Linked DNA regions of Homo sapiens. The protein of the gene in region 4 interacts with the protein of the main gene of each other region in a pairwise test. Each region holds a gene or a part of one and is shown on either strand. Other genes may lie near its edges. The genes, in order: HSPB7, CARD10, WDR25 and PRDM14.

Evidence for each region.
Region 1: the proteins of PRDM14 (region 4) and HSPB7 interact in binary tests that used the Homo sapiens proteins (3 or more experiments, as listed by UniProt).
Region 2: the proteins of PRDM14 (region 4) and CARD10 interact in binary tests that used the Homo sapiens proteins (3 or more experiments, as listed by UniProt).
Region 3: the proteins of PRDM14 (region 4) and WDR25 interact in binary tests that used the Homo sapiens proteins (3 or more experiments, as listed by UniProt).

Annotation. Positions count from the first base shown.
Region 1 is NC_000001.11:16,015,044-16,022,534, forward strand, and holds the start of HSPB7 (heat shock protein beta-7), read right to left. Parts: upstream 3,001-7,491; 5' UTR 2,921-3,000; coding exon 2,722-2,920; intron 2,180-2,721; coding exon of another isoform or gene 2,165-2,179; coding exon 2,031-2,164; intron 717-2,030; coding exon 537-716; 3' UTR 1-536.
Region 2 is NC_000022.11:37,495,406-37,502,428, forward strand, and holds part of CARD10 (caspase recruitment domain-containing protein 10), read right to left. Parts: intron 1,774-7,023; coding exon 1,614-1,773; intron 1,156-1,613; coding exon 1,044-1,155; intron 599-1,043; coding exon 355-598; intron 182-354; coding exon 112-181; intron 1-111. UniProt on the Homo sapiens protein: Scaffold protein that plays an important role in mediating the activation of NF-kappa-B via BCL10 or EGFR.
Region 3 is NC_000014.9:100,379,485-100,386,507, reverse strand, and holds part of WDR25 (WD repeat-containing protein 25), read right to left. Parts: intron 5,599-7,023; 5' UTR 5,584-5,598; coding exon 4,762-5,583; intron 1-4,761.
Region 4 is NC_000008.11:70,061,251-70,068,273, forward strand, and holds part of PRDM14 (PR domain zinc finger protein 14), read right to left. Parts: coding exon 6,980-7,023; intron 5,256-6,979; coding exon 4,985-5,255; intron 1-4,984. UniProt on the Homo sapiens protein: Transcription factor that has both positive and negative roles on transcription. Required for the maintenance of embryonic stem cell identity and the reacquisition of pluripotency in somatic cells.

The DNA.
Region 1 (7,491 bases), on a different chromosome or scaffold from region 4:
CTGGTAGAGGGGAAGTTTACCGTCACGGCTGTCTCCTCTTGGCCTTGCTGAGCCCTCGGGCAATTAGTTCCACTTAGATAGGCACCCTTGCCTGTGACCTTCCCTCTGTCCCTCCCACTCCCCTTGGCCAAGAGGGTTCCAGGTCCCTGGTCCCCTTGCCCTGCAGAGACTTCATAGATCAGAGGGTTTGTCTGTCTGTCTGTCCTGCAGAGCTTGCCCATATGTCCTGCTGGTCCCATTCCCCTGACCCACAGTGGGTTCTTTAGATCTTCCTTCCCTGACCCCAGCCCCTGTACTCTGGATTAAGTGACGGAGGCCAAATCTGAAATCTGGGCATCATGTGTCAGGCCAGGGAGTCCCTGGCCTGCCCTGGATAGAGTGGAGGGCCCTAGTTTGGGAGGATGGTCCACCTGGGGTCTGGGGTGCGTGGGGGCTAGAACCTGGGCTGAGATGTCCTGGAGCTGTTGTAATGGGGTTAGCGAGGCTTTGCTGGCAGGCGTGGGGCGGGGGGACAGGGAAAGGGAAGGGAGAGGCACTCAGATTTTGATCTCCGTCCGGAAGGTCTGCTGGACGTGTTCTGTATGCGGGTGACGCCGTGCCCGGATAGTGAGGCTGCCGTCCTCCCGCAGAGCCGAGGTCACCGACGTCGGGTCCACGTCCTCCGGCAGCTGGCACTTGTGAGCGAAGGTGTTCATGACAGTGCCGTCAGCCGCCAGCTGGGGAAGGGGTGACCCGTCAGGCAGGCTGCCCCGACCCCTGTCCTGCTTGTGACAAGCCAGAGCCCTCTTCTCCCCATTCTAACCCCAGCCAGACCCCACATGCCGAGGGGCTCTGCCCTCAGGTGCCGAGGGGCTGCCCAGGGTGGTGATGGCCACAGGCCAAAGGCTCTGCAGGGACAGCGCAGGGGTGCTTCGCAGAGCTCCAGTAGCTCCAAGGAACAGGCCAGGGACATGGGGAAGAGGTGGGGCTTGGAGAGAGAGGAGGCTCCGTGGCAGTGGCTCCGAATCTGGGGCTCCTGGGGAACGTGGAGGTGACAGAGGAGAGCCGTGCCTTCCTGGATCCCCGGGCACATTGGGCATCTGCCCGCCAGGGCTGAGCGCCGGCCCCTCCCCCGCAACTCAGCCAGCACATAGTGTCCAGGGGAGTTTGGGGCGGCTGAGTCACTGTTGGGGGTGGCAGGGCTGGCACATGCTGCCTGTGGGTTTTGGTGCCCCCAGTCCATGGCATCCCTGGCAGGGACGCCCAGAAATCCACCCTTGAATGTGGAGGGGAAGAAGCCAGTCCTTGGGGGCTTAGGAGGAGGCTTGGGTCAGGTCCTCTCCTCTCTCCTGGCAGCCGTGGCTGTCCCTGGGCAACGCCCCTGTTCAGGCCTGGCCATACCCTCTCCAGGGTGGAGGCCCCAGTGCCTCCTAGAAGTTCGGACTCAGACACGCTAGAGACCCAGTGACCCTGAGACCTGTGGGCGGGCGCTGTGTGTGGTTTGGAGTGTGTGTGACCCGAAACTGCAGGGCCCCTGCCCAGCCTCGGGCCTAATTTAGGGGTCCCAAGATGGGGGATGGGTCTCCAGCTGTGGGAGGGAAGAGGGCTTGAGGTGGGTCACATGGAGAAACCCCTCCCCCCACTGCCCAGGTGAGTTCCCCACCTACCCGCATCCGCCCCCCTATAGCTACCAGAGGAGCTGTCCTCACTCTGCCATCACCATCTCACACCTGTCATCTCCCACCCTCAAGCCCCACCCCCTCAGGCTCCCTCTGCCCACATCCCTCCATCCCTCTCCCATTCCTCGGAGGCTCCCTCAGCTGCTCAGGCCCTGGAAGAAAGGATCTGGGAACCTCGGTGCAAAGAGAGGCAGTGAGGGGGCCCCATGGCCATGGGTTGCAGGGACAAGGCCTTCAGTTAGCCCTGGGGGAGTTTGGGTGGGGAAGGGACACTGGCCAGGGTCTGGGGTCCCAGGATGGTAAGGGGGAGTAGGAGACATTGGAGGCAGGAGCAGAATTTGGGATGCGGTGAGTAGGGGGTGGGGGGCTCACCTTCTCAGCCCGCACCTCGATGTGGTTGTTGGAGGTGGTGACAATGATGTCTTCAGGTGAGAAGTCTCTCACGTCCACCGCAAACTCATAGGCGTCTCCTAGGGTCTTGATGTTGCCTGCCCCACCGGGGCGGGCTGTGGGATGGGCTGCTGTGAGCGAGGCATGGAGCAGGCCTTGCATGCAGATCCGGGGGTTCTGGCTCCTTCTCTTGGGGCAAGGGGCGGCTCCCCCAGGCCCTACCTCCCCCCTAGCTGTTTCTCCCTAAGCTCCTCCTCATTCCTACAGCCCACCTTTTCTGGGGTGGGGGTGGGGCCTCACCCAGCACAGTGTGTGTGTATATGAGGCTAGGTCTGTAACAACCCCACCCCAGGCCTGGAGCCTGGGGGCTGCCCCCCACCGCTCACCCATCCAGCCCTCCAGGGCTCCAGCTGGGATTGGCTGTGGTTACAGAGCATGGGTGGCCATGGAACCATGTCCAACCCCCAGGGCCACAACTGTTCCTTAGAGGCCCACCTGTTTTCATGGCCACATCTGTCCCTGTGGCCACATCTGTCTTGGTGGCCACACATGGCTGCAGGCTGTGCAGCACCTGTTCCAGGCCGACCGGCAGCCACAGCGCCTTCGGTGGCGCCCTGGAGCAGACGTCCCCTCCCTGTGCACCTCCCCTCCCCTCAGGGCCCGGATCACTTGCCTGGGAAGGCCAGGGGCTCCGAGTGGGGCCGCATGAAGCTGCCAAAGTCATCGGAAAACATGCTCAGGGCCTTCTCCATGGGCGGGTCCTGGGCCGGGAGAGCACGGGAGGCCGAGGAGGAGGTGGAAGAGGAGGAGGAAGAGGAAGAGGAATGGAAACTTCTCTCCGCTCGGAAGGTGGAAGAGGTTCTGTGGCTCATCCACGGACGGCGCCGGGCCCTGCCCAGGCGGGCGAGGGCTGGACAGGAGAGGGTGTGGGCGCAGGCCTCTGGGCGAGCGTGCCAGGCTCCGACTGCGGCCGCTTTATAAGGCCGACTGTCCCTGGGCTTGGGGCCAGCCCCTTGTCTACTAGCTAAATTTAGGCCTCTCCATGGCCCAGAGGGGGCTGGAAATCTTCTCCCGTGCGCCGGCCCTGCTGACAGCCCGACACGCAGGCCGAGAGGGCTGAGCTCACAGCCTGACATTCCAGGCTGATCACAGCAGCCCCAGGGGCCTCCTCACCACTGCACAGGGCTGGATCCTGTCTCCTTGCCACTCGGACCTCGGTGCCTGCCCCAGAACCTTGCAAGTTTGGGGTTTATTGTGTGTTTTGTTTCCCCCGTCAGCCTGGGGGCTCCTGAGGACTGTGCCTCCCCTCCAGACTCTGGTTCTCCTCCACGGCTGTACCTCCTCCATCAGTGTGCAGGCTCCTTGGGGACAGGGTAGGTGGAAGCACCACCGCTCTGTGACGTCAGGAGCTCCTTCCCTCAAGGCAGACAACCTTCACAGCCCATCTCTAAGGAAAGGTTGAGCCCTGCCAGGGGGTGTAAAATGTGCAGCTGTCCCCTGCCAGCCCCCATGGGGACCTGGATTCTGTGCCTGCACTCCCTCTGACTCTCAGAACATTCAGCAGCCCCAAGAGGACAAAGTTGGCAGCTTTCTCCTTAAAGGTCTAGAAGGTTGTGTTCCCGGCAACTGTCTGCTCCATCTCTGTGTCAGAGGTGATGCCTGCGAGCGCCTTAGGTGGGATTTCAGTCAGAGGTAAAAGAGAATTCCGGAAGACAATTATTCTAGCCCTGAGTTCTAGAATGCCTTCTGGGCATGGGCTCCTGGCTGCAAGCTGTCCAGCACGGCCCCGTTTGATCCCCACACAGCTGGGAGGGTGGAGGGGCTCTTCCCATGTTACGGACGGGGAAGCGAAGCCTCTTGGAAAGGGCGGGGCTCGCAGTTGCGTAAGTGGCAGAGCTGGGATTCGAACCTAGATGTGTTGGACCCAAAGCCCTTCAGAGGCCGAGGTGGTTTGAACATGTGCCTATGGAGACAGGCTGGCCCGGAAGAGCCAGAGAAGCCCCTCCCTACCCACCTGCTTGCTCAGCAAAGCTGGGACTGACCTTGCCCTGGGCCAGGGTGGAGGCCATTCTGAGAGGCGGCCAGGCCCTCTGCTCTGCCCAGGTTGCAGTTAAGGGCCTCTGCTGTCCTCTCCAAATCCGTCCCTTCCGTCCCAGATCAGCTCCAATGCCTCCTCCCCCAGGGAGGCCTCTCTGACTGCTCCTGCTCACATGGGCCCACACCCAGTCCAGATGCCCCCAGCACTGACTGTCTTTGTCCTCCCACAGCACCTGGCAGTGTGACATAGTCTTCCTGTGTGCTGTGACTCTCTGCTGTGTCCCTTCTTCCCTATCCAACTGGCAGTTCCCACGGGGGCGAGGGTTCACCTGTCTCCCCATTAGATTGAAGGTTCTTGAAGACGGGCAGTTTCTCTTTTGTCTGAGCCCCCTACAACCCAGTCTGGAGCTTCATCCTGGAGAGCTCCTTCTACAGGGGTATTAGCGGTGCTGGTGGTATGTGGAGTGGAAGCAGAGCAGGGCACAGGGCACAGCGGCGGGCCAGGCTGTTGCCTGGAGCAACAGGGCCTGTTGCCTCTGGCAGAGTTTCCTGCCCGTGTCGGGGCCTGTGACACCCAGCCTGGCTGAGGGGTTTCTAGGGCAGCTGGGAAGCCACCAGCACTGAGGTGAGATGGAGAGAGGGTGGGGCGGGGTGGGGGGCCCAGAGCCTGCCGCTCGCCAGGGAAACAGGAGCCGGTGGCTAAATGCAGACACACTGTCATGGTGCTGAGGGCCTGAGTCACTGCCCCTGGATGTCAGATCCCGTTACCCACCCCCGCCCACCATTCCTCCTCCCCTTTTTCCCCCTTCCCGAGGCATCACCCACACAAATACTGGATCCTCTGGCTTCACTGACCCAGAGGGACCTCAAAAGGTCATCAAGGACATTCCCCTGCCTCTACCTTCAGATCACAGAGACAGAAGGAGCTACAAAGATGATGCAGTCCTTTGAATCCCAGTCACCCAGGAGAGCTTTTCACAAACACAGACCCTTTCCTTGGACCCCAGGATTTTGATTTGGGATCTGGGGAAGGGACCTCACATCTCTTCCCATCAGCTCCCCACACAGCCAGCTCATAGGCCAGTGATGAAGCCCTCATCACTCAGTAGGTATTCATTGAAACCTTGCTATAAATAGGTGCTGGGCACTGTTCTAGGCTCTGAAGGACTCAGAGATGAATAAGGCAGAGACAGGCCCCTGCTTCCAGGCTCACCTCATCATACAGAAGAGGAAACTGAGGCTCTAGTTGATGAAAGAGTTAGGGTCAGCAGAGCTGTGCTGGCTTCAAACCGGTCATCCTGCTGAGCCACCCTGGCTGCCCTCTTCTCAGCCTCCTGGTGCACACAGGGCTGGGGGGTGAGGGTAGATGTGGACGTGCAGTGCTGGCTGTGGGACAGTAGCCAGCAGCTGCCCCAGACCAGACACTGGAAATCGGGATGTTGACAGGGCAGCCAGTTCTGGTGCTGTGCAGAGTCAACAGGTCGGGGTGGCCAAGGTGAAGGTGGGCTCGAGTCCATACAGAGCGGCAACTCCCATCCCACCTCCCACAACACACATCTTTGATTTTGATTTGACTTGCCTGGCATCTAGGGGCAAAGGGTGGCCCAGGGTCCCAGATTTTAACAATCATCCAAGGGCTATCATAAGCTTCAGAGGGTGGCTTTGTCTGGGTGGGAGTGGAGGCAATTGTCCCCAACCTCTTGCCCAAAAGTGGCATCAGACACAACTCTTCTGTTCTGTGCCCAAACCATTGCCCTGGTTCAGCCTCAGGAGCTGGAGGAGCTTTGGGCAGGGGAAGAGCTGCACAGTGTGGGGCTGGGTTCAGCCTCTGCTGTGTGACCTTGGATGAGTGACTCACCTCTCTGACCATCTACAAAATGGCGAGGCTCTCCCCATTCACAGGGTGTGGGAAGGAGGACTTGAGCTGCAGATGTGACGCTCCTGACACGTCGCAGGCACACGGCAGGTGCTTGTTCCTCGCCATGTCCCCTCACACCTGTGCTGCCATCCTCTGTTGGGGTGGGACAAACTCTGTGGAATTACCCAGAAGTCCCCACCAGAGCCGCTGGCCCTTGGACGTGTGCTTTGAGAAGCATTTCCTGAGCCTGGAGGGTCTGGACACAGGATCAAGTCCGAGTTCCTGACCCCAATTCACTGCCTTGCCCCAGGTGTCGGCCTCCTCGCCAGCCCTGGACAAGATGGGTCATCAGGATGGGACCGTGTGGCACAGCCTGCGGGCTTTGGAGCCAGGCAAACCTGGGCTGGGAATCCTGGCTCTGCCTCGGCCTCCGTGATCTTAGACAGGCAGCCCCAGCTCCCTGAGACACCATTTCTCTACAACGGGATCACGCTGCCTGCCTCGTGGGATTTCCGTGGGCACTCAGGGTAATTAATCTGGGAGAAGGCTGACTCTCTACCTGACACACAGGGAGGCTGTGGTCATGCTGGCCCCACTCACCATTGCCCCCCTGCCTTCTCCTTCCCTTCCCAGCCTCCTCCCCTCTCCCTCTGTGCTTTTTCAAACCTTCCATGTCCAGCTCTGAGACCCCTGGACCCTGAGTCTCAGCCTTGGCAGATGACCCCTCTCTGTCCTGCTGTGTGCATGAGCTCCCCCTTCCCAGCCCTCGTCCAGCAGCACCCAGGAGCCTGAGTACAGCTGGGCACCACCCTCTGTGCAGCTGTGATGGGTGGGGAGGCTCCTGCTCCCCTTCTCTCTTGGCAGTTCTGCCCTGCACAGCTCTGGCCTCCACAGTTCTGGTTGGTTTGTCAAGGACGTTTTTAATCTCCATGGTAAACCCCGGCCGGCGGGGAAGGGGGGTGGCAGGGAGAGAGTGATGATTGGTAGAGCATATACCTGTCCAGGTGCACTGGAGCTGGGAGCAAAGGAGGCTCTGTGAGAGGAGGGCCAGTTCAGCCGCAGCAGGAGGACTGACAGGTGAGGGGTCTCTGGGCGTGGACTGGAGTATGAACCTGGAAGGGCCAGGCAGGCAGGGCATAGGGGATGGTAGGGGCAGTAGCCAGCACCTCACTTTGGCTTTGCAGAGGCCTTCTGGTCCTGGGGTTTTCCTGCCTCTGTGACCTGAGCTGTCGGGGAGAAAGGAGGGTGCTCCGAGATTGGCAGGGAGAGTCGGAGCCATCCATGGGACTCTGCAGTGAGAGAGTCACAGCCCTGGGCAGAGACTGCTCCCAGTAGTGGAAGCACCAAGCGACCCAGGAGGGTGGGAGCGGTGTCCACAGTCTGCTGCTGGACACAGGGGGACACCTAGGAATCCCACCCTCATCCCACAAAATGACACACACAGGCACACACCCTCAGTGACGGAACCTCAGGGATGAGGGCACACACAGACCTAGTGTGATAACACACACACACACGCACAATCCTTCCTCTTCATTTGGGTGGGGA
Region 2 (7,023 bases), on a different chromosome or scaffold from region 4:
GGAAGGAGGGAGGGAGTGTCTTCCTAGGTTGCCAGAGAACAGAGCCTGCTAGCTCCCTTTTGGACCCCACCCTTGGGGCCCCCCACCCACTACCTGCCCAGCCGTGCTCACATTACTGCGGGGGCCTCGGTGCCGGCTGGAGGGCAGGCATTTCTCCTGAACTTCTAGGAGCTGCTGGGCTCTGTGGGAGGGAGTGACATCATGTGTGTAGAAAGAAGGAAAGCTCCTCATTTCTCCTCGAACCCCCCGCCCTGTCCCAGAGGATGGTGAGGGAATGCAGGTGGAGGGAGAGCACCCCCATCTGAGCCCTGGCTCCCAGGGGGACCCCATCCCCAGCTCCTGGCTCTGCGTCACCTCTGATAATTGGGCACGGTGCCCCGGTCCAGGTCCCGCAGAGTGAGGGGGTCAACCCGGGTGCAGAACCATTCCTGCCTCCGCTTGTATGCCGAGTCCACCAGTCGAAGGATCTCTTGGGCTTTCACGCAAAGGGCATGGGGATCTGCCCTCTCAGGCAAGGTGAGGTTGGCACGAATGTAGAAGGGCTCGGCACCTGGTCCCTTTGCCCAGGCTTCTAGGGCCTCGTGGAAGGACTGGCAGGCTGGGCATGGATGGGGCAGGGGGCAGCAAGGAGGACAAGAGGAGGATGGTGAGGTCCAGGATCGGCCTTGGTGGGGCCAAAGACATGGCCCTCTCGAGGCCTGAGTTCCCAGGACCCGACCTTCACCTTCTTAGAATGACTTAGGTCCAGAGGGGGCAGGGACTTGCCCAAGGCCAGTGCCTTCTAGAAACAGAGCCAGGACTCAAACCCAGGTCTCTGGACTCCTAATGTAGTGCTCCTTTCACTGTAAGCTGCTTACAGAGGGAGGCATAGAGAAAGGGCACAAGGACAGACAGAAGGAGGCATCAGCAGGCGGGGAGCCAGGAGAAGGGCAATTGGGGCAAGGCTGGTCCCTTCTCAGGTCCTTGGTCCCTCCCCACCCCATGCACCACGGGTTAGAGGACCCCTCTGGGGCCAACAGCTCCGACTCCCAAGCCAGACTTACCCTTCGAGTCCATCAGGGAGGGGAGTGTGGACCCCTGATTCCAGAGCAAGGTTCTCTGCTGGGCCTCGGCTTCCAGGCACGCCCCCTCCAGACCAGCAGCTTCCACCCTTTGCTGGGAGAAAACCCAGGCAGGGAGGGAAAGAAGTGAGCCTCTGAGAGTAGAGCAGCCCAGGGGCTGGAGGAAGACCAGGTGTGGGGGTGTTTCATGCCTCACAGTTCAGATAGCGCCCCCTCAGAAACTGCCATGCCCAGCCCAGTCAGACCCGTCCCCATCCACAGGACGCCCCCATCCACAGGACTCCCCAACCCGCCCAGCTCATCCAGGTCTTTCTCGACTTGAAGCGCAGGAATGTAACGTGCTGTCAGTTGGCTCCACCTCCCAGTCCCTGCCCAATCAGACTTCAATTAAGCCTGGCTGAGCAGGCAACCACAGCTAATCACTGAGCCCGCTTCGGCTTTGACCAATCCCCAGAAGCTCTGCCCGGTGATCTTGATCCACCAAATTAAGGGATGTCCAGCCTGGGCAAAAGCACTGACCCTACCCCCCCAGCTCAGGAGGCAGGGCCTCACCTCTCTTGGTTCCATCCTGGCGGACCCAGGCCCAGACAGCACCCTGCGCACCACAGCCCCAGACCATCTGTCCCCATAAAACGACAGTCCATCTGGTCCCTTGTCCTGCGGCTCTGGGCCCCCTGGGGGGCTCCGGCCAGACACCCGAATAGCCAGAGACCTGAGAAGGGAGAAAGGAGATGAGAATTGGAGTCCAATCAGTACTTGGATTCAGTTCAGCATTCTTGGAAAACCACAGTGATTTCATTTCCCAAGTATGCCATGACTCCCACCCCCAGGCCTCTCCATCTTCTGTGCCCTCTTCCTTGCCTTCTCCACCTGGGAAATGCTGATCATCCTTCAAATCTCAAGTCACAAGCAGCCTCTCCCCTGGACCTGGGCACACGGTGCAGTGGAGCCTGCGTGCCACAGAGCACTCCAACTTTGCCTTGCCACGGCCCTTTCGTTTCCTCCATCAGAACGAACACCTTCAGGACCAAACTTCTATACTGTTCCGCTCTGTAGCCCTGGCACCAAACCCAGTGTCTGGCACATAGCAGATGACTAATAAAAGCTTGTTATATAGCCAAGCACGGTGGCTCACGCCTGTAATCCCAGCACTTTGGGAGGCCGAGGCAGGCGGATCATGAGGTCAGGAGTTCGAGACCAGCCTGGCCAACATAGTGAAACCCCATCTCTACTAAAAATACAAAAAAATTAGCCGGGCGTGGTGGTGGGCGCCTGTAATTCCAGCTACTTGGGAGGAGAATTGCTTGAACCCAGGAGGCAGAGGTTGCAGTGAGCCGAGATCGAGCCACTGCACTCCAGCCTGGGCAACAAGACTGAAACTCTGTCTCAAAAAAAAAAAAAAAAGCTTGTTATGCTCACAGTCTGAGGAGGGAGGTCACCATTAGCACGTGGCACAGATCCAAAGGTGGTTACAACCAGCCGTGGAAGCAGAGAGAGGCTTCCCACGGAAGAAGTACCTAGGCTACACGCTGGTGAAGAATAGATGCACTTTGGTGACAGATGGAGGAAACAGAGTTCCAGGCTGAAGGAATATATCAGAGCAAAGGTGTGGAGGACAGAACACAGGATGCGTGGAAGAATTTAATAATAACAATAGCAGCGAACACTTCCTGGGTGCTTTCCATGTGCCAGACACCATGCTGAGCTCCTTGCCCTAATTCTTATTTTACATCCTGGGAAGCAGCTCCCAGGAAAGGCAAGCTGGAGCCACCCTTTGGAGGGCGTGGAACAGAGGCGTCTGGTTTTCCTCCCATGGGCAGGAGGACCACTGACAATTAAGACGTCACCAAAATCCCCATCATGGTAGGGTTCTGCCTGTCCCTGGATGAGAAAAGGTGAGGCCTTGTGGCCAGGCTCAGAGACAAATGGACCCCAAGTCCCCTGCCAGACACCTTGGCCTGGAGGAGGTGGGGAGACCAAGGTCAGCAGGTGTGCTGGCTGGAGAGGCAGCGGGGCGAAGCATCTCCATCCACCCCAGCAGCTGCAGCCCAGACACAGCTGCACTGCCCCCTGCTGCCAGCCTGGGGAGGGCGCGGCTGCAAGGACCTCCCACCCAATCGGCACTGCTGGGGAACAGCCCCGCCCTCTCAGGTAAGACACAGAGCCAGGCCGAGGGGCTGGACAGATGCAGGCATGGGAGGCATCATTCAGTGCCGCATGTCCTGGCTGCATCGAGGTGGCATGGAAAGGGGGCAGGCCTGAGACCTGGCCTGGCTATGCTGGCCCTGGCTTTGTGGCTGGAGCACACGGTCCGCTCCAAACCCCAGGGCAAACTGCACCCTAGCCTGGGCAAATGAGCCGGCTGCTGAGCGTCAGTTACCACATGCATAACACGAAGCTGACAATGACACCCCTTGCCCTCTGTGGGTGCTGGGGGGTGGGGGGGGGGGGCACATGAATAAAAGATAATGCAGGGAGAGGTGGAAACCAGAGGACTCTGGGGCCTCCAAACTGCAGGCCTGGCCCTTAGTGGCTGGTAACATTCACTGGGTTGCGACTGGGACAGCTGGATAATGCTATGGAATAGAAAGTACAATGCTATCCCCCACCCCGCTCCCGCCACCCCAGGTAAATCCAATTATTATCTCATGACCTTTTTGTTCCAGGCATGTGTACCGGGTTTCTCTCACTGTGGGTTGTGGTCAGATGGTCCGAGAAGCACAGCACGCAGGGTGCCAGCAGGAACTCTGGGGTCAAACGGCCCAGCTGCTCAGCCGCTTGAGCCTCAGCTCCACCCACCTCCCTGGCTACTCGCTGAGTTTAGACATGGGCAGCTCTCAGAACAGGGCCCAGGAGACACTAAGTGCTCTGTCAAAACTAGACATTTACTGGCATCAGGTGTGATTCACAACAAATCACCTCTCGCTTGCCTCAGTTTCCCCACCTGTTTCAAACCCACAGACAACTGACCATCATGGCCTCTCCAGACCAGAGCCCAGTAAGCAGCTGGCATCCAGGCTCTTCCACCAACCCTACCCACCCCACCCACCTCTACTCGCTCCCTCCTCCACACCTCTCCCCTCTGCAATGCAAGCATCAAGGCTGACCTCAGCTTTCAACTCAGGTTTTTCAGGCTCTTCTTGACAACTCCTGCAGCTCCCTGAAGACCCAGCTCAGGCGCCCCCTCCTCCAGGACGCCCTTGCCAACCTCCTCAAAGGACCAGTGACTTCTCTGAGCCTCCACAGACCAGGAATACCTGCTCCCAGCACTCCTCGGAGTCTGCAGAGCCCACAGGGGCTTGCCCAGAGCAGGGTCCAGATAGGGTTCCTCCCAGCCCCCCGCCTCAGCAGACAAGCAGGAGGGGTAGAGAAAGGACACAGCAGGGAGAGGGGCTGCCTGCTCCCCGCTCCTGGGACTGGCTGACCAGCTGGCTGCCTGTGTGGTACTAGGAAGCACAGTGTCCTTAGCTACCAGCTCCCAGCCCCCTCCCCAGTCAGGTCAGGTCACAGGCAGACAGGAACGGGGCAAGTCTGCCAGCTCTGCCAGCTCTGAGCAGTGACAGGCCACATGGCCTCAATGAATGTCCCCCAGGGCCCCGTGGGAAGATATCTGAGTAGTCTGCGTGCCTGCTTGGTACCAGGTCAGGGACCTGATGCTGAGACTGAAGCATGCCACACAGATCACCTCAGTCAATCCTCCTGACAACCCGATGGTTGAGATAAGGGAAACTGAGGCACAGGAAAGTTAACTTGCCAAGAATGGGCACAGCTAGTGGGCCGTGGAGCCAGGCAATGACTTATGGGAACCCTCTCTTTGCAAGGACAGAAGGTGCCAGAGATCCCCTGGGGCCACGTGAGCGAGCTGGGCAGTGGTGAGGCTATGCTGGGGAGACGGCACCCCGAAACCCTCCAGTGCTCTCCATGCTCTGCCTCTCTCACCCAGCACCTCACTTGCCCCATGAGTTCTCCCTTGCTGTCCCCCACCTGACTATCTGTCAGCCCAACCCCCGGTCTGCCCCAGCCCCCCACTATCCACCATCCCCTCCCGGCACCCAGGCTCCAGGAGCTGAGAAGGGCAGGGCAGAGAGGCTGAGGGCAAGAGATGGGCAGGAAATGGGAAAGAGGAGAGAAAATGCCCAACATGGTGCCCAGTACAAAGTGGGCACACAATACGGATGTGAGATCTCCAACAGCTGAGACAGTGGGGAGGCACATCGGAATCTCCAACCAGCTCCGAGGGGCCTGTGACTTGGGACCAATTTCTAACTGTCTCTGTACTTCAGTGTCCTGGTCTGTGTAACGAGGTTAAAATTCCAGCCTTGCAGAGCTGCTCTGAGGATTAAACAACAATGGCGACAATAATCATAACTAACCGCGAGCATATGCTGACATCCACCGTGAGTGTGCTAAGCATTCTAGAAGGGATACTCAAACCCCCATAGTGACCCTAAGGGACAGGCACTATGTGAGCCCATTTTACAGAGCAGGAAACTGAGGCACTGGGAAATTCAGAGACATGCCCAAGGTCCCACAGTAGCAAGTGCTGACACCAAAGCCAGCTCTTCCCACCTCGCCATAACACAATCCCAGGAGACACACAAGTTGCCCCGACCTGGGACCTGTCCGGGCCCTCATCTCCCTCTCCCTCTCCTCTCCGCCTGTCTGCCTCTCTCTCTCTCTTTCTCTCTCTCTCTCTGTCCACCACCTCTGCACCTTCCCCAGCCTGTGTTCTTCCCCAGGAACCTCTCTCCTCCCCAGGAACAGCATGGGCAGCAGAAGTGGCCCCATGTGATCGTGGGGCCTGGGCGGGGCTGGGACGGAGGCTCCTGCTCCCTGGCTGCATCCTGGCGCCCCCTGGACAACAGCCAGGACCCCTGCTGCAGCCCAAACTGGAGGAAGGGAGGAAGGGCCGAGGCGAGCAGGAAGGGAGGCGCCTCCACCCCTTCCCCGAGAAGCACGTCCTGCACAGGCAAAAACAATGTCTCGCTGAGCCCACTGCCGGGGGCCAGGTGGGGGCAGGGCCTGGACACTGGCTGACCAAGCCGCTCCGGAGGCCAGAGGCCCTGGTCCTATGCTGTACCCATCTGCTGCGTGACCCATCCCTCTGCACCCAACACCTCCACATTCCAGCGCTGACAGTCCATGTTTCCTATGCCCTTTCCAAAACCCAAATCTGATCAGGTCACTATGAACCCAGACCTGGTACTTCCCAACTGTGGGACCCTGGGCAAGTTGCTTAACCTCTCTGAGCCCCAGTTACCTCCTCTATGGAGCAGAGATAATCGTCATTATGCCTACTCCCTGGACAAAGAGCATGTTGTAAAACAGCCAGCAGCTGGCCTTGCAGTTAATAACTAAACCCTCCCACATTTCCCAGAGTGTACAAGCCAAAGTCCACACTTTCCCAGCCTGACTCAGGAAGCCTTGACTTTCGCCCTTCCCCCTCGCTCCTCCTCCACAGTCACCGGATGCTCTCCCTACCTGCCCTCTCCTCACAGCTGAGTTCCAAGACCACAATGGCCGTGCAGCCCCCGCTCTGCCCCACCCCTCCCTTAGATACACTGGCAGGTGTGAACAGCGGCCACGCACCGGCCACACTAACAGCACGTCGCCTACAGTGCACTCTGCACTAATGGGCTTTGTGACTCCTGTTATGGACCTGTGGCTGGCCCGGTCACAGGGGCTCCTGAGGTGACCCAAGCCCACCCACAGCATGAAACTTTGCTGGGTGGCTCAGTCCCAGGGACTCAGAGCCAAGGGACTGACAGGCAGGACATTGGGACGAGGACAGCTTGTAAGTGACAACTATTACTAAGCACCTGCTACATGCCTGGCAGAGCTGGGTGCTTTGCTTCTGCGAGCAGAGCCCTCAAAAGACCTCCATGCAAAAAGGGTCATCATCTCCCTTTAGCTACTGAGGAAATGGAGGCCCAGAGAAGTGAAGGGACCAGCCCAAGTCACA
Region 3 (7,023 bases), on a different chromosome or scaffold from region 4:
ATAGGAAACAACATGGAAATGATGGAGCAAAGTATGAAACTTGAGACAGTTATAAAAATATATTTGGGGAAAAGTTTTTAATAAGGTAGAAAAATTCCCCTTACACGTTACAGAAGATTGGGCAGCAGAGGAAGAATTCAAAACTGCACATACTATGCAATAAGCCCAATTATGTAAACAGATAGGAATGTAGGGCCCCCGACCAGGGAGGCCCCTCATGTTAATGAGGCACTGACTTGGGGTTGGGAGTTATCAATGATTTCTGTTTCTCCTTCATACTTCATATTTCCTGCATCATTAAAGTTTTTCACAATAAGCATCTATTACATTCATGGTCAAAAATTAAAAGGTTTTTTTTCAAAGTATTTTAAGGAAGCTTGTTACTGAAAGAATTTCTAGAGCAAATTATTCTGTAAAGCAAATAAACAACATCTAATTCATATATTTTCTTTAAAAACCTTCTGTGTTTCAGAACTGCAGGTTTTCATACAGGTACAGAAGGTCCCTGGTGGGTCTTCTGTCACCCACCCAAAGGTCTTATTCCTTTGGGACTCCCTCTCAGTGCCTGGCAGAGGGTTCTGTACATGGGAGCATTCAATAACGGCTGGTTGTGTTTTTGGTTAACGCAGGCCACGTACATGTTTTCCTTCAAAAAAAGGCATCAAAGTCTGAATTTCTACCTTTACGTGCAGTGGGTGTTCAAACACGTTAAGCCAAAAGAGTTCACTGGGAGATGAAAAGAGTATATAAAAGGGTATCCGTGCTGGGATCACAGCTATGAAAAAAACAAGCACGTTCACAGACAAGGGGAGGAAGGGATCGTCAGGAAAGAGCAGCGGTGCAGAATTATGAGTCATTGTTTTATTTTACTTAATTTCTCTAGCTGTAAATTTTTCAAAACTAATAAAAGCATATTTTACAGCTCACAGAACATTTAGAACATATTAAAATAAGTATCTTTCCACTGTAATGTGTCCAGTTGAAATGTATGAATTCCGAAGCTACGTTTTAAGGATATGAAGGAACTGGCACTCCATGTTCTTTAGATTAATAAGTTGGACTGTGTTGTTTTTCTCCTGATCAGAAAGAAATCATTTTTCAGTAAATGTTACCTTGAATCAAGGATTCTTCCACATTCTAGAAGCTTGGATGAGCTGCTTATATTAAGTCTTACTGTGCACCCTAGTGGCGAATATGATTTATCCACTCAAAAGACAATCCCTTCCCAAAGGCTTGCGATAAAATCCAAAAAATTTGTTTTAATTTTTATCGATCACTTAACATGTACACAATTTTGTGCCAGATGCTGGGGAATATAAAAATGGGTTCTGGCTCAGGAAGCTTAAAGTCTAGTAGGTGAAGCTGATATGCTTCCATGGCTACTTACGTAAAATAAGACATGAGCACAAGTCAAGGAAAGGAGGAAATTCTTGGGGAAAAGCAGGAACTCGAGCACACACTAAGTGCCTGCTATGTGCCAGGCATTGCACTTGGTGATTCACAACTAATATCGTTTACTTTTCACAAAAACCCAGCGAGGCATGTTTAATTCTCTCCACTTTATAGATACTCAAATGAAGGCTCAGAAGTGAGGTAACTTGCCAGAGACCACGCAACCAAGGGGCTGGCCGTAGAGGAAGGACCCAAGCAGGTCTTGTCACCCAGCCCCCAAGCTCTTCCCTCCTTCCTGATCCAGCAGGGGCCCAGAAGACACTGGCAGATTTTAACCAAAAGGCAGGGGGAAAGCACCCTGGGAAGGGTGTACTGCTGCACCCGCCTCTTTGAGCTCATTCCATGCTGCACCCACCATTTCCTCTCCTCCAGGGACTGGGCTGCAGCCAGCCAGGACTCCTGCCTGTGCCCGAGGCCCTATCCCCACTCCAGACCCACCACCCACACCCACACACTGCCTTCCCCAGATCACCAGGTCCCCAAGATCTGCCATGCTGCCCCACCTCTGACACCAAGGAGGGAAAAGAACACCATGTGCCTCCCAGCCAGGCCACGCACAAACCTGGTGGCCCAGCAAGCCTGAGGCCTCAGCCGGGACTTCTGGCCACAGCTCCTGCCTGGCTCCCCGCCGGTTCCCAATCTGTCTTCCCATCCTGGCTCCTCCAGCCCCTGCCATACACTCTTCACACTGAAAAGTTGTTCAAAGTCAATTTGCCCAAAACCAATTTGCCAAATAACCCCATCACTGAAAACTGACAAATATCTTAAAACAGAGAGGGCCCTGGCCCACCATTTGTATCTATGGCTTATAAAAGCCCTAATGTTCACGACACCACAGTAAAAAAAGAGGGTCAGGAGATGCCAACCCTAGCAGCCATGCTGACCCTGGCCCAACCTCATGACAGCAAATGTGCTCTGCCCTGGGAAGGAACCCAGGGTGCACAGTGCAGTGGGTGGGGCTCCCCAGAAGCTGCCTGGCAGCCCAAGGGGCCCATGCCAGTGTCATCACCTGCAGCACACACAGTCTCCTCGGGACAGGCGGGCACAGCTGCGGCGCCTGGCCCCACCCAGGGCAGCCCCACAGACCCGGACCCAGGTCTCTGAATCGCCCAGGAGCAGGGCATTCCTACCACAGTCCCTCAGTCTGAGCCACCCTCACTGCCATTCCAAGCTGGGCCCACTGCGCCCTCTTCTGGTCATGAGGTGTCACAGTTAGTTGGCTGCTCACAGTTTCCCCTCCATGGGGGCAGAAACGTCTCTCCCCCCACGTCCCCAGTGGCACCGTGCCTGGCACATTTGTCTACTCCACAAGGCCAGAAATCAATGCCTCTACTCAGGTGCTCTCTGCTCAAAAACTACCATGGGGATGCTTCTGTTTAGGAAATCTAAATTTCCCAGGCAAAAGTGACCCAAGCTGCCACTCTGCCAGCAGGGCCCAGGGAGCACTTCACGCCACCAGGCGAAGGCCAGTCCCACAGGGCCCCAGGTCTGCCCCTCACCATCAGGAGAGAGAACTCCAGAGGTGAGCGGGCAGGTAAAAGAAGGCCTCAACAGGAAGGTGAGCACAGGGAGGACAAGGGCCACCACTTGAACTCCAGGGCCAGTCAGACACTGCCCAGGCCCACCAGCAACCCTCCAGATGGGCTTCCCATCCTCCAGCCCTTGCAGCGCAGACTTGGGAAGGAGAGCAGAGAAGCCCCGGGGCCACAGGATCAATCCCAGCATGCTGTGATCCACGCCAGGGATGCCAGAAGCCTCCGCGCACACTTCACAGCCCCCGGAATGGCAGGAAAAGCACCAAAGACCTAAGTGGAAAATCCTGGAACTCCAGGCTGAAGAGAGAATATGACGTTCTCTCCCACAGGACTCTGAGTCTTGCTAGAAAAGAGCACAGACAAGCCACTTCAGGACTCCAGTTCGCCACTTAAAAATGCCACCCATCAATTCAGCTCATTTCAAAGACATCTCTATACTTGGAGCTTCCTTTCTTCACTTAAGAAAATGTTTCCGAGGGAGAAAAGCTCAAAATGTAATTTGCAAGAGAAAAGATGTAGGAAAGTTGGTTCCAGAACTCTGAGGAAACAAGGGCAAGGGAACCACCATTTACTGAGCGCCTATGAGGTACCTGGCTCTGTGCAAGGCACTTTTTCAGCATTTTTCTCACATGAGCACATGACCCAGGTATGATTTTGCCCTTTTACAAATGAGACACTAGACTCCACAGGAAGGCAGCCGGCCAGTGGTCGACCAGCTAGCTACTCTGCAGCAAAGCTGGATGTGAAGCCAGGTCCCTTGAAGTTATTTCCTTTCCAAGAGCTTTCTGTTCAGCTAGCATTTAGTTGGCACCCGCTACATATCAGGTGCTTTGCTAGCTGCGAGGAGAGAGAGGAGGGATGCAGTGCACAGCTCGAAGGGCTGGAGACAGGTCCCAGGTGGGCACAACGACCTATCACACTGTACCTCCATACTGGGGGACTACATTACTATCACTTCAGTAGCCTGTAAAATAAATAAGACAATGCAAAAAAGAGTTTCCATGTAAAACCAGAAGTCCCCAGAAGGGCACGTGCAACCTTCCCTGACCTTGCTTCCCCAGCCTCAAGTCCCTCACCCACACATGCTTGAAGCCAGCTCCCAGGCCCTCATGCTTGGAGCCAACACATACACAGGGCTCCTGCAGCCAAGCACGCCCTTCTGCCCCCATCCCCAAGCGAACCTTCCCCTTCCTCAGGAGGCCTTCACTGAGCCCTGCCGGGCTGGGCTGGTAACCCTCCCGTTGGGCTCCCAGAGCACCTGTGTGTCCTACTGGGGGCCGTCCTCACAGCTCAGGGTTGAGTCTGTGTACTTGTCCACGGCTCCCGCCTCACTGTGCAAGCCCTGACACCAGGGGCTGGGTCTACCTACCTCTCCCAACAGCCCTTGAAACCAGCACAGCACCAGGCACAGAGCTGGCATGGCTCAATGCTCCACAGGGTCACCGAGGATGTCCCCAGTCCCCAGGGCTTGGTCCTGGGCCTGCTTTTCTTCTCCCACTAATCACTCTCACCTCCTCCCTCACGGCCTCCGAGAGGGATAAGAAACAGTATCCTCTGGTAACCTGAGCAAGGCAGCATCAGGGAAGGGTTGGGGCAGAAGGAACCCACAACCCGGAGCTGACCACAGATGACCCTTTCTGGAATGCAACAAAGGGAATTACAGAAATCTGCACACAAAAAAAAGTTCAGCCTGTAACCTCCCTCCACTTCACTATTATTCCAGCAGTGTATTCCTAAGAGCATCTGAAAGCAGAAGTTTTCATTCAAGTCTTACCTTGAAAGTTTTATCCATAGAAGTGGAGAGAAGCATGTGGCTCTTAGAAAGGACTGGACACCACTGAATGGTGTTGACAGGGCCCCTGTGGCCTCTCAGGTGGAAAAGCACTTTCCGGGGAACTGTGGTTTCTTTATAATGGCTATTCAAATATGGCTGAATAAACTCAGACACTCCCGGGCCCACGTAGAGAGGGGCTGGGGCACGCCCTGCAGGGGGCCCCTGTGGCTCCACGTCTTTACCCTTGCCTGTCTCCGTGCTTAATGCCTGCCGCTGTCTTAGTCTTCTGGGAGTATAGGGTACCACACAGTCCTCACATTTTTTCTTCTGAAAAGAGCTGCCATTTTTACCTACGGTTTCAGACTCACTTTGAGCATGGAAAGATGACTTGGGAAAGTTCCTGGAGAGTTTTACTTGCTTAAAGCGGGCAGCTGCCAGGGGCATGTGGCTGGCTGGAACATGGCTCGTCCACAGAGAAGAACAAGAAGGCTCTTTGATGGGGAAGGTGACTTGAGGCTCCTTCCCGGGCCACTGTAGCCTCTGGCTGGGGCAAGATCCCCAATCGCTTCTCCCAAGCTGAGCCAATGGAAGGCGATAGCCCCCTGGGTCTTCACAGGAGCCATGCTTTGTGGGCTGTGCCCCTGCTTTGGGCACATCCAGTGTACCAGATGCAAAATCCTGCCCAGGTGGTCTGGCCACACCAGAAGTGTCTTTCTGCTGGCCGGTAGCATTAAAACTTCCTGCATGCTCTGTCTCAGCCTCCGAGTCCGAATCATCATACGCTACCAATGAAGCCATTAAAGACAGAGTTCTTGCTGTCATTCAAAGCCAAACCACCTAAGATCAAACAAGGTCAACCGTCAGAAAATGTGCATGGAAGAATATGTATGTAGTTATAAGAAACCATGTCACCTAGGAAATCCAATAACTCAACACTCATAAGAATAAACACAGGCCAGGCGTGGTGGCTCACGCCTGTAATCCCAGCACTTCAGGAGGCCGAGGTGGGTGGATAACCTGAGATCAGGAGTTCGAGACCAGCCTGGCCAACATGGTGAAACCCCGTCTCTACTAAAAATACAAAAAGTAGCGAGGCAGGGTGGCAGGCACCTGTAGTCCCAGCTACTCGGGAGGCTGAGGCAGGAGATCGCTTGAACCTGGGAGGCGGAGGTTGCAGTGAGCAGAAATTGTGCCACTGCACTCCAGCCTGGTCAACAAGAGCGAGACTCTGACTCAAAAAAAAAAAAGAAAGAAAAAGAATAAATACAAAAACAAAAAAGGCTTTTCTACATATCAGGCCCAATTAGTTAGAAGATAAAATTTTTGAAATTGAAACTATGGAATAGCTGGGGGTAAATCTGTAAAAAATAAGCAAGACCTACATGAAGACTTATAGTAAGTCTGGGTGCAGTGGTTCACACCTGTAATCCCAGCATTCTGGGAGGCTGAGGTGGGCGGATCACTTGAGGTGAGGAGTTCGAGACCAGCCTGGCCAACATAGTGACACCCCATCTCAAGTAAAAATACAAAAATTAGCCAGGCCTGGTGGCACACAACTGTAATCCCAGCTACTTGGGAGGCTGAGGCAGGAGAATCTCTTGAACCCAGGAGGTGGAGGTTGCAATGACCTGAGATTGCACCACTGCACTCCAGCCTGGGTGCCAGAGGGAGACTCCATCTCAAAAAGAGAAAAGAAAAGAAAAAAGCGCTGGGTGCAGTGGTTCATGCCTGTAATCCCAGCACTTTGGGAGGCCAAGGCGGGGGGAATCACAAGGTCAGGAGCTCAAGAGCAGCCTGGCCAACATAGTGAAACCCCATCTCTACTAAAAATACAAAAATTAGCCAGGCGTGGTGGCACGCACCTGTAGTCCCAGCTACTCGGGAGGCTGAAGCAGGAGAATCACTTGAACCCAGGAGGCGGAAGTTGCAGTGAACCGAGATTGTGCCACTGCACTCCAGACTGGGTGACAGAGTGAGACTCTGTCTCAAAAAAGTAAAATTAAAAAAAAAAAAGGAAAGAAAACTAAAACTTTTATTGAAGGACATAAAAGAAGACCTAGGCTGGGCGTGATGGCTCACACCTGAAATCCCAGCACTTTGGGAGGCCAAGGTTGGTGGATCACCTGAGGTCAGGAGTTCAAGACTAGTCTGACCAATATGGCAAAGCCCCGTCTCTACTAAAAATACAAAAATTAGCCGGACATGGTGGCAGGCGCCTGTAGTCCCAGCTACTTGAGAGGCTGAGACAGAAGAATTGCTTGA
Region 4 (7,023 bases):
AGTGGCTTTGACTATGAATGCACCACAGAGATCTCATTGTTTGACCCCAGGGAGGAAGAGCAGCCAAGAGTGAGTCTATGCAAGAGTCTGCAGATAGAAATCTTCTCAGCATCAGGACAGCAGGGAAGCTGTCCATCAGGGGCTTTGTTAGTTGACAACTACATCCCAGGCACGTTTAACAGGTGGCTAAGGAAATAAACTATTCATTAAGTAAATAACCAGGAAGGCAACTGCCAGCCCCAAGCTGATCCATCGCCCTGCTCTGTCTATCACTTTCATTGAGGTGCTAATACTCTCAGAATCCCCGTGCTGGGACACTTTTTTGGCACAGAGGTAGAATTTTTATTGGTCAGAAATACCTGGCCTTCCTGCTTCCTGGGGTGGGAAGGGAAGAGAGGGTCAGCAATTTTACAAACCTAAGCACTAAAGCACACCAAAATTCAGAATAAAGTTTCAATACTGAGTTCGCTTAAGAACAACCACTTAGGTAGAAATGAAACCTAATTTCATCTTGTTCCCTATCCTTCCTAATTTTATCTTGTTCCCTATCCTCCCTCCCCCTAGCTCTTCACACCTCCACACCCCAAAACACACACCCAAATTCCCTCTCTCCCTCACAAGAGGGGAATGCTTGCATATTCAAATAACCCGCCCACATAGAGTCTAGACCCTTCCCTCACCACTCAAGACCTTAAAGAGGAAGGCTCCCACCTACCACCAATCCCCACCAAAAAGCCTTTGGGGAAAAAAACTCATTTGAGAATGCAATGGAATTTTAATTTTTCTTTCCTTTTTATCACATCCAAACCATTCATATTAACAGATTAACAAATTAACATTCATTTATAATTATTCCCAACAAATTAAGTTGTTTACAAGTTTCCCTCCATTGTCCAAAATATATGTCCTCATAATAATGCTGTAAGCATCAGGTATCACTTGGTTCAGAACTGGAACACAAGTATCTTATCTGCATGCTGGGTATCCCCTGCACTTAACCATCATAAGCCCTCATTCTGTTGCTTGCTCTGATTGCCTCTGATATCGGCATACTATTCCATGTTAATAACAAATAGGTTGAGTATCCTTTTTCTGAAATGCTTGGGACCAGAAGTGTTTTGGATTTCAGGTTTTTTTCGAACTTTGGAATATTTCATATACATAATGAGGTATCTTGGGGATGGAACCAAAGTCTAAATATAAAGTCCATTTATGTTTTGTTTTATACATACTTTATACACATAGCCTGAAGGTAATTTTTTTTTTTTTGAGACGGAATCTTGCTCGGTCTGCAACCTCCGCCCCCGGTTTCAAGCGATTATCCGGCTCCAGCCTCCTGAGTAGCTGAGATTACAGGCATCTGCCACCATGCCCAGCTAATTTGTTTGTATTTTTAGTAGAGACGGGGTTCCACCATGTTTGTCATGCTGTTCTCAAACTCCTGATCTCAGGTGATCTGCCTGCCTCGGCCTCCCAAAGCGCTGGGATTACAGGCATGAGCCACCGTGCCTGGCCCACCTGAAGGTAATTTTACACAATATTTTAAATAATTTTGTGCATGAAACAAAGTTTGTGTCAAGTACTGGTGTGTGGAAATTCCCACTTTTGGCAATATGTCAGTGCTCAGTTTCAGATTTTAGAGCATTTTGGATTTGGGATTTCTTGATTGGAGCTGCTGAGCCTGTATCATCATTTACTTAATTATTATACTACTGAACATTTAGGTTGTTTGTGATTTTTCACTCACAAGAGTGGTGCCACAGTTAAAAATTTTCATAAGCATAGCTTTTTCCTTTTGGACTATTTCTCGATAATAGATTTCCAGAAGAGTATTACTGAGACATCAAAGTTACAAACATTGTAATAATTTGATACATACGGTGAAAAAATTTCTCAAAAATGGCCGGCCATGGTGTCTCATGCCTGTTATCCCAGAATTTAGGGAGGCCAAGGTGGGTGGATCACTTGAGTCCAGGAGTTCAAGACCAGCCTGGCCAAAATGGCGAAACCCCATCTCTACTAAAAATACAAAAATTAGCTGGGTGTGGTGGTGCATGCCTGTAATCCCAGCTACTCGGGAGGCTGAGGCAGGAGAAATGCCTGAACCCTGGAGGCAGAGGTTGCAGTGAGCCTAGATTACACTACTGTACTCCAGTCTGGGTGACAGAGTGAGACCCTATCTCAAAAAATAATAATGATTTCTCAAAAGGATAATAACCATCTTGCCAGTTACTAAGCAGATACTTTTCTCAAATCCATTGTTCACTTTTCTTTCTTTCATTTTTCTTTTTGAGATGGAGTCTCACTCTGTCACCCAGGCTGGAGTGCAGTGGCGCCATCTCAGCTCACTGCAACCTCTGCTCCTGGGTTCAAGCGATTCTCCTGTCTCAGCCTCCTGAGTAGCTGGGATTACAGGCATGCACCACCACACCCAGCTAATTTTTTGTATTTTAGTAGAGACGGAGTTTCACCATGTTGGCCAGGCTGGTCGTGAACTCCTGACCTCAGGTGACCCAACCACCTTGGCCTCCCAAAGTGTTGGGGTTACAGGTGTGAGCCACCACGCCCAGCCTGTTGACTTTTATTTCGAAAGGAGTTGGTACATTTCAGGAAGTGACCAACAGGTCTTGGTTTGGTGCTAAGTAGGAGACAACTTAGAGCTCCACAGATCATAGAGAATCCCAACCATTTTTGCCTCCATTCCTATCTTCACCTACATTCCCACACCCACACCACCCACCAAAACACTTCTGGTCCCAGGCATTTCAGAAAAAGGATACTCAACCTGTATGCAGATATCAGAGGCGATCAGAACAAGCAACAGAATGAGGGCTTATGATGGTTCAGTGGCGGGGGGAACCCAGCATGGACATAAGATACCTGGGGGAGTAGGAAGATAGTTCACCAAAACAATCCTGACAGCCCCTCATCATTGGGACCATTATTTATCATTAGATAAATAATGACGGCTGACTGCTCATTATTTATCATTAGATAAATAATGACTGCTTATTATTTACCCCCTAATTTCTGGACATTTCCTTGCCTTCTGCTTCACTGTTCCCTGAGCCTGATTGCCTTCCCTCTCTCCCTCTTACACGTGCCTTATTTCATCTCATCCCTAAGCAGCTTTTTCTAGCTTAGTTCTAATGTCTTCCTCTCAGTCAGTACGCACTGGGATCCAGAAGCACGAGATACTAAAGTGTTTAGGGTTATTTCCTGCCCTGAAGCATCTCAGCCTAGCAGGAAAACAGGCATGCAGATGCAATTTACTTTTTTTTTTTTTTTTTTTGAAACGGAATCTCGCTCTGTCGCCCAGGCTGGTGTGCAGTGGCGCAATCTCAGCTCACTGCAAGCTCCCCCTGCTGGGTTCACGCCATTCTCCTGCCTCAGCCTCCCAAGTAGCTGGGACTACAGGGGCCCGCCACCACGCCCGGCTAATTTTTTTGTATTTTTAGTAGAGAAGAGGTTTCACCGTGTTAGCCAGGATGGCTATGATCTCCTGACCTCGTGATCCGCCCGCCTCACCTCCCAAAGTGCTGGGATTACAGGCGTGGGCCACCACGCCTGGGCCATTTTTTTTTTAAACCTGCTCCTTACACATTTATTACATCATAATAATTTGCCTTCTCTCTCTCTCTTTTTTTTTTTTTGGAGACGGAGTCTTACTCTGTTGCCCAGGCTGGAGTGCAGTGGTGCGGTCTTGGCATATTGCAACCTCTGTCTCCTGGGTTCAAATGATTCTCCTGCCTCAGCCTCCTGAGTAGCTGGAACTACAGGTGTGTGCCACTACGCCCCGCTAATTTTTTGTATTTTTAGTAGAGACGGGTTTTCACCACGTTAGCCAGGATGGTCTTGATCTCCTGACCTGGTGATCTGCCCATTTCGGCATCCCAAAGTGCTGGGATTAGAGGCGTGAGCCACTGTGCCCGACCTGAGATGAGGTTTTACCATGTTGGCCAGGCTAGTCTTGAAGTCCTGACCTCAAGTGATCCGCCCATCTCCGCCTCCAAAAGTGCTGAGATTACAGGTGTGAGCCACAGTATCCGGCCTGCCTTCTCTCTTATTTACAGGAATTTACATTTATCTTGTCCCACCTACTAGATTAGTAGTTCCTAAACTTCAGTGTATATAGAAATCACTTGGAGAGCTTATTTAACATGCAAATTCCAAAGTCTCACCCCTAGAGTGGGCTGGTGGTTCCCTCGCCCCTTGCTACTGGAATGTGGACCAGGGACCAGGACCAGCAGCACTCCCTGCAAGTTGATAAAAATACCAAATCCTGGGCCCCTACCCTGAATGAGAACCAGCATCATGAAGATCCCTGGGTATTCATTCCCACATTAAAGTTTGAGAGTGAGAGTCCAGCTCAGTATTTCTCAAACTTGCCTGAGACCCATAGTAGGCAATGTATTTTATGCTTGACACCCACCATACCCACATATACCCATGTGAAATAGAAATTTCACAAAACAATCCTTACTCTTAAGGGATTCCCATCAATATTTTCTATTCTACTCTATACTTTTTTTTTTTTTTAATGTGGGTCTTGACCACTAAATTGATTTCCCACCCCACTAAGACATGCAACTCTGCAACCCACCATTTGAAAAACACTGCTCTAGTGATTAGACTTCAGCTACATTAGCCTGGGCAGAGATGAATCAGAAACTGGCTCACCTATGGTAGAAGTTACATCCATTTAGTACGTTTTCTTTTACTCTTGGGGTGGAAGGTAGGGAAGAAGAACAAGTCTTTATAAATAGGAGTATATATCTTTATAAATAGGAGTAGCTTCCGCAGCTTTGGGAAATTGAGGATGCTTTCCTTCACCTGGGTAATTCCCCCCTGGTTAGAGACACTCTCGGTTAGTCCTCTGCATTAGCCTTTAGGAGGGAGGAGCTGTGCATGGAGGGTTTGTGGAAAAGAGCCCAGTCCTTCTACTGGGATGCCCTCATTGGGCAAGGCGAGGGTGTGCACTCACCTTCAGAGGGCCCAGATGGCTGCTTCCCCGGCTCTGTGACCTGAAGGCTCACAGGAATATCCAGAAATTTCTCATAGCAGTCTCCATACCACACAAGGAGCTCTTGGTTCTGATGGATCTCTTTGCAGCTCTCATAAAATATATGCCCTTGACACTGCACAGCAACTAGGTTCTGCTCCTTGGGGAAGCGGGCACAGTTGACATAGGACATCCAGTTCCCCGTACCTCCTTTTCCATCTATAAAGTGGCTCAAATGACCATCTTCAAAGATCTAAATGAAATAAGACATGAAGTTTGTATTGTACTTCTTTTTTGGTCTAATCTATAAAATAAATTTTTTAATACTTGTAACCTAAATATCACACTTGAGTCCACCAAATACACTTCTATCATTCTGATTTTTATGTCATTACAAGTAGTTTATAAATTTACTTATGCCAACATAGATTTGTTAGTTTAAGGACACCTCTCTAGGTAATGTCACATATTGGGTTTGTTTGTTTTTTTCAGAGACAGAGTCTCACTCTGTTGCCCAGACTGGAGTGCAGTGGCTCAATCACAGGTCACAGTAGCCTCGAATTCCTGGGCTCAAATGATCCTCCCACCTTAGCCCCCTGAGTAGCTGGAACTAAAGGCATGCACCATCACGCCTGGCAAATTTTTTTAAAAAAATTTTTTGTAGAGACAGGGCCTCACTCTTTCCTAGGCTGGCCTCAAACTCCTGGGTTCAAGTGATCCTCCCACCTTGGCCTCCTAAAGTGCTAGAATTACAGGTGTAAGCCACTGAGCCTGCCTAATGTGACATATTCTAAAAGATTCTTACTTTTATCACTTTCTTGCTTCCCAAATTCCTATAGTGAGCACATGTTAATTTCATAAGCAGAGGTAAGTGAAACAAAAAGGTTTTATTTAATTCCACCACTTAAACACAACTGAATAGTTTTATATTTTACTCCCAGTTAGGTTTCATGCATATTAATGGAGCTATAGATTATTTCTTTCAAGGCCGGGCCTGGTGGCTCACACCTGTAATCCCCGCACTTTGGGAGGCCAAAGCAGGCGGATCATGAGGTCAGGAGTTCGAGACCAGCCTGGCCAACATGGTGAAACCCCTCTCTACTAAAAATACAAAAATTAGCCGGGCATGGTGGCACATGCCTGTAATCCTAGCTACTCGGAAGACTGAGGCAAGAGAATTGCTTGAACCCAGGAGGTGGAGGTCACAGTGAGCTGAGATCACGCCACTGCACTCCAACCTGGGTAACAGACAAAAACTCCGTCTCAAGAAAAAAAAAACAAAAAAAAAAAAACAAAGAAAGATTACTTCTTTCTCTGCTGCTGGCAATTTCGCTGTCTCCAACATTTTGTTATTATAAACAACCCTAGGATTAACATATTCCACATAGCCTCAATTTCAGATTATTTTCCTGTACTATATTCCTAGAAGTAGAAATTCAGGGTCAAGGGACTTTGAACATTTTAAGGTATCTGATACATTCTGACAAATTTTCTCCTGCAGGTAATAAACTGCAGTCCCACTAGCATATCCCTAATATATCATCACTAGATCTTGAAGAGTATCTGGTTATTTTTTTTTTAATCCTTGACTAATTTTATAGGTGAATAATATTGAATTTTAAAACTTGTTTTTATTCTCTTTAGCATAGTTTCAGCACTCTATAATATCTAAAGCATTTAGTTTTGTCTATAAATATAATACAACATATTGATTCTTTAAATGTATATTCCATTGCTAATCTTCCAGACTAAAATGACTTAAGGCACCCACAAAACACAGAATTCATGCAGAGGTGCTATCCTCATGGAGCAAACACTGGCCGTTCCTTCCTTTTACAGGCAACACAAACCACAGATATCTGCCCTGGATGTCCTCTCTCTCTGACCAGGACTCTCCCAAAAGGGCAAAGGCCAAGATTTCCCCGGACTAGTCTCCCGCCCCATTTTCAGCAGCAGACCCACCAGAAACAGATTTACCTCCCACATCACAGAATTGTCTCCGTAGGTCTTCACTTCACTGG